2 separate regions of the Homo sapiens genome follow, and region 2 is linked to region 1. The links come from fine-mapping of genetic effects on gene expression. Tissue or cell type: thyroid. Region 1 holds a variant in brackets; the other region holds the start of a gene. All regions are shown on one strand. Distances are from middle to middle.

Region 1 (2,606 bases):
GAGGAGGACAGCAGAGGAGAAGGGGAGGGCGTGTCTCCCCTAAGCTCCCCAGTCAGGGCCTTTGGAGAGTGCTGTCCCTGGGCCACCACCTCCTCACCAGGTCTGGGTGTGAGCGGGACAGCACTCTGGTGCCTGCCCAGGGCGGGGGAGCACAGGAGCCCTCCCAGGTCCCCGCCTCCCTCCTCTTACAGCGAGTGTCCCCCTGCATTCGTTTCCTGCGGCTGCTGTAACCAATTATCACAAACTATCACCAACTCCCAGCTTCAAGCAACCAGAAGGCTCTTCAAGGAAATCCTTCCTGGCCTCTCCCAGCATCTGGTGGCTGTAGGTGGTGGGCCGCCCTGGCCGTGGTCGCATCCTCTGATCCCTCCTCTGTCTTCACGTGGCCTCCTCGTCCTCTCTCTTCTACCGACACTTGCCGTTGGATTTAGGACCACCCCAAATCTAGGATGACCTCATCCCCAGACCCTTAACTTAAGGACAAAGGCCTTTTTCCAAATGAGCTCACATTACAGGTGCCTGGGGCTAGGACTCGGACATACCTTGTGGGGACCACTCAGCCCACTGCAGATGGGAGCACTTGAGCATCCAAAGTCAGTATAGTAAGTTCCAGAGCTCTATTGTCTCACAGGGTGACTACCATTAAGAAAAACATTGTATTCTTGAAAATTGCTGAGAGTAGTTGTAAATGTTCTCGCTTCAAATGCTAAGTATATGAGGTAATGTATATGTTAATTTGCTCAATTTTCCATTCCACAATGTACACATATTTCAAAACCACTTGCTGTACACAATATATACAATTTTTATTTGTCTAAATAAATAAAATGTCTTAGAAAAAATAATGACTGCAGTTTATGAAACCATACTGAACATAGCCGAGCCATGAGTTCATGATGACTCCAGAAGGAAGTTACAAAAACCTGGTATATTCATCCATTCGTGCAGAGCTAAAATAATTACCTGAGGCTGGCATGGTGGCTCACGCCTGTAATCCTAGCACTTTGGGAGGCCAGGGCAGGCAGATTGCCTGAGCTCAGGAGTTCAAGACCAGCCTGGGCAACATGGTAAAACCCTGTCTCTACTAAAACATACAAAAAAAAAAAAAAAAAGCCAGCCATGGTGACGGGCGGCTGTAGTCCCAGCAACTCAGGAGGCTGAGGCACGAGAATCACTTGAACACAGGAGGCAGAGGTTGCAGGGAGCTGAGATCGTGCCACTGCACCCCACAGCCTGGGCAACAAAGTGAAACTGTCTAAAAACACAAAAACAAAAAACAAAACAAAAAAAAACCCCACGAGACTGGGTAATTTATAAAGAAAGGAAGTTTAATTGACTCACATTTCCACAGACTGTACAGGAAGCAGGGCCAGGGAGGCCTCAGGAAACTGACAATCATGGCAGAAGGTGAAGGGGAAGC[G/A]GGCACAGCTTGTGGCCAGAGGGAGGAAGAGAGAGGAGGAGGAGGAGAGAGCGAAGCGGAAGGTGCCACGCACTTTCAAACAACCAGCTCTGGAGAGCACTCGCTCGCTATCACGAGAACAGCAAGGAGGAGCTCTGCCTCCATGATCCAATCACCTCCCACCAGGCTCCTTCACCAACGTTGGGGATTACAATTCAACAGGAGATCTGGGCAGGGACACAAACCCAAACTATGTCACCTGGGCACGGGGCAGCAGCTTGGATCTCCCAGGAGTGGACCCTGAGACAGGAAGGCCCGTGCTGGAGGTGGGTCAGGGAGTGCAGGAAGGGGTGGGAAGGACTGGGCGGCGGAGACACTGAGCCTCAAGGTCAGGCTTGGAAGACCTCACAGGGACTCTGCAGGGGTGGGGAGTACCCTTCCAGGTGGCTCTGAGCTGGGATGATGGGACAGGCCTTCTCGGCCACTGGGATCGGTCAGACATTGCCCATCTGTTGATCGAAACGTATCAGGAGCAGCGTTACCACCGGTACCTGCTGGCCCAGCCCAGCTCACTCCAACAGAGACAACCAGACCTTATATGCCTCATGACGTGGTGCAACGGGAGGCAGAAAGCACTCCTGAGCCTGGGCAAGATAGCATGACCCCATCCTTACAAAAAGTCAAAAAATTAGCCAGGCAGGGTGGTGACACTTGTGGTCCCAGCTACTTGGGAGACTGAGGCGGGAGGATTGCTTAAACCTGGGAGGTGGAGGCTTCGGTGAGTTGGGATCGCACCACTGCACTCCAGCCTGAGTGAGCGCAAGACTCTGTCTCAAAAAAAAGAGAAAGCCCTCCTGTAAAATATTCTCCCCAGACAATTGAACATGAATCTAATCAAGCCACACAGGAAATACAGAGGCTGGAGAAGCAAGTCCAAGGACAGCAAATTCCTACATGGAAACATCTACATGGAGCTGACTGCTCTCCCTAGAGGCCAGCATCACAAAAGAGCAGGCTGGGGTGACTGCCTTAGACAGAGGGAGACTTTAAGAACCCTAAAACCAAAACAACCAAATGCACATGGCCTTTGTTAGGAATATCCCATCAAATTATAGAAAGATGCTTTCACACAATCAGGAACACAGAGATGTAGACAGGTGTGTTAGTCCGTTTTCACGCTGCTAATAAAGACACACCCAAGACTGGG
Region 2 (2,606 bases), 31 kb before region 1:
ACCCATCCCCCTGCTGCAGGCACTCCTGGGAGAGCCCGACCCCACGGGAGGGAGCAGGCCCCCATGACCCCTGGAGGGGGAGCAGAGGCCCTGGGACAACTGTGCCCCATCCTGGCAGTTTGAGGGGAGCCCCTATGGCCCCTCCCTGGCCCCCATGCACGTGCGTGCACACACACACACAAACACACACACGGGCTATACAGACCCCACACCGACAGTGCCCCCCTCACACTCCCGCCCCGCCTCACATATCCCCCCCAGAGGTCCGTGGGTTCCAAGCTGTGAAGGACCAAACTGGATTTGAAAGGAGGCCCGGGAGGCTCTCAGAGGTGACGGATGACCAAGGGCTTCCGTGCGGGGCCAGCCGCCCACCAGTTCCAGGCCCTGGAGGAAGAGCGCTGGAGAGAGCCCAGTGCCGGGGCAGAGGGGCCGAGGGCCGGGCTGGGGTCGCAGGGGTCCCGGAGGGGGCGTGGGCTCTATGCGAAGTGCGGTGGGAACCGTCAGAGGGTGGCAGCCCCACACCCGGCTCTCCCGCGGCGCCTCGGGCTCTCCCAGGCACCTGACCCAGCCCGCGGGCCCCCTACTCACCGGGCGCCGAGCACAGCAGGACGGCCAGCAGCGCCAGGCCGAGGCCCTTCATGGCTGCAGGCAGCATGCTCCGGGTGGGCCTGGGGGCGGCGCGGGGGCTTGGGGCGCGGGTCCTCTGGGGCGCAAGCCTGGAGGGGAGAAGCATCGGTCAGGAGACCCCAAAGACCCTCTCCTTTCCCAGCCTCAGGATGCAACCTTCTCCCCGGAATCCAAGGCCGGGGTCCGCCCGGAGCTCGCAGAGCCCCACCCCCAGCCCCTTCTCCAGAGCGTCCGCCGTCACAGCATCCCCGCCGGGAGACGTCTGGCCTCTGGGGCGAGGTGACAGCTCGAGACGCCTCCGCCCCGCGCCGGCACCTGTGTGGGGGAGCGGATGGGGGGCGTCCTCTTCTCCCCGGGGAGCTGCAGGTGCGTCCGGACAGGAATGAGCGGCAGGGGCGGGAGCGGGTGGGACCTGCCACTGGGGGGAGGGGCGCGTGCCAGGTCCCCACCCCCACCCCTGGGCTGGGGGGCCGGGAACCCCGGGCCGAGTCCCCTCCCTTGGCCTTCCGCGCGCGCCTCGGCGCTCACCGCGGATGGGGCGTGGAGCGCGGGCCTCGGGGTCGGGGGGCTCACTCACATCCCGGGGGTGTCCGCACTCCGGGCTCGGGCGGCGTGCGCGGCGCGGGGAGCTGTGCCCTTCGGTCTCCCTGCGGACCGGAATCCGGGCGCAGCCTCGTCTTTCGGGGAACGCAGCCGCAGACGCGGACCCCGCGCGAGGGGCGGGGCGGAGCCGGGGCGGGGGCCGCGCGGGGGGCGGGGGCGGCTGGGAGACGCGCGGGGCGGGGGGCGCCCGGGGCTCGCGGCCCCCACGCAGGTAGCTGGCCCGGGCCCTCCGCGCCCCCTTGCTGGCGCGCGCGCTCCCTCGGGTTCCCGCTCCCTCCCTCGCGGCGCCCCCTGCTCCTCCCCAGCCTCCGCGGCCCCCTACCCAGGCGTGGGCAGGATCCCTTCCCCCTCTGCTTGGCTGAGATCCCCTTGGAATTTCTCGGAAGAACGTTTACTGCGAAAGGAAGCAAAATGCACAAAGACGCAGAGAGGGGGAGGTACCCGGCGCGGCGCCACGCGCAGGTCCGGGTTCGCAGACCCCTGGGGTCAGACTCCCGCCCTGGGGCCCCGCCCTCCCCCTCCTCCCCGCCCCTCCCCAACCTCATACCCGTTTCCCCGTTTCCCCGTTTCCAGTGGCTCCAGGCCGTTCTCCTCCCCTGAGCATCCATGAAGACCCCCACCAGAAGCCGCAGCCCCAGGGGCTTCTGTCGCCAAATACTCCCACACTCGGAGGTAAAGGTACAAATCCTGGCCAGAGCATCCGAGCCTTGGACCCGTTTCTCGGCTTCCTTGGCCTTCCCGCCCTGCCCTCCAGCTCCCTAAAAGCTGTGCCTTTGCACGTGTCCCTGTGCCTGAAATCCGCCTCCCCGGGGCACTGGGGAAGCCCCGATCTGCCATCGTGCCTTTGGTCCTGCTCCCTTTCATTTGACCTGAAAATGTTTACTGCATGCTCCCTGCTGCCCTAGCCCTGCCCTGAGCCCTGGGAAAGGGCATGAGGAGAGAGACCTGGTTTCTGCCCTCCTGACTCTCCCCTTGGACAAATGGTGATGCCTACTGCAGCATATCTTTGCAGGATGTGACAGAGCTAACATTTATTGAGCATGTACTATGGATTCCACCTGTTCTAGACACTTCATATTTATTATCTCCTTATAGTCTCACCACAGCCCTGCTGTGCAGATAGTATCATTTCCATCTCACAGATGAGGAGACTCACACGGAAAGGCGGCGCTCCCTGCTCGGGGTCACACAGTGACGCAGGTGACAGGTGACCCAGCTGAAGTGGGAACCCAAGCAGCTTGGGCTACAGGGACTGCACACCTCCGCTCCATTGTGGCTCCAGAGGGGTGGAGGCAAGGACGAGATGGACAAGAGACCACCACAGGAGCGTGCTTTGCCTCAGGGTCAGGGAGAGCTTCTCCCAGGACCTGATACTT

Which allele goes with the higher level. Alleles are on the strand shown, and positions count from the first base shown. SD is a standard deviation of normalised expression in the study named.
For the expression in thyroid of the gene that starts at base 1,328 in region 2, allele G in region 1 goes with a lower level than allele A (moderate effect, 0.44 SD a copy in GTEx).

Evidence for each region. PIP is the estimated chance that this variant, and not a neighbour inherited with it, causes the effect.
Region 2: it holds the start of LY6H, and the variant in region 1 is fine-mapped to the expression of LY6H in thyroid (GTEx, PIP above 0.99). The same link has a PIP of 0.9 or more in lung and sun-exposed skin.

What each region holds. Positions count from the first base shown.
Region 1 is chr8:143,190,049-143,192,654 of GRCh38, forward strand. LOC107986906 (a long non-coding RNA gene) reads left to right here and starts at 1,511. Exons shown (of 2, transcript XR_007061137.1): 1 at 1,511-1,725. The variant G/A (reference allele first, on the strand shown) is at 1,421.
Region 2 is chr8:143,158,994-143,161,599 of GRCh38, forward strand. LY6H (lymphocyte antigen 6 family member H) reads right to left here and starts at 1,328. Exons shown (of 4, transcript NM_001135655.2): 1 at 1,205-1,328; 2 at 589-716. The coding sequence starts at 1,206. It overlaps LOC124902035 (a long non-coding RNA gene), which reads left to right and starts at 876. Exons shown (of 2, transcript XR_007061136.1): 1 at 876-993; 2 at 1,804-2,606.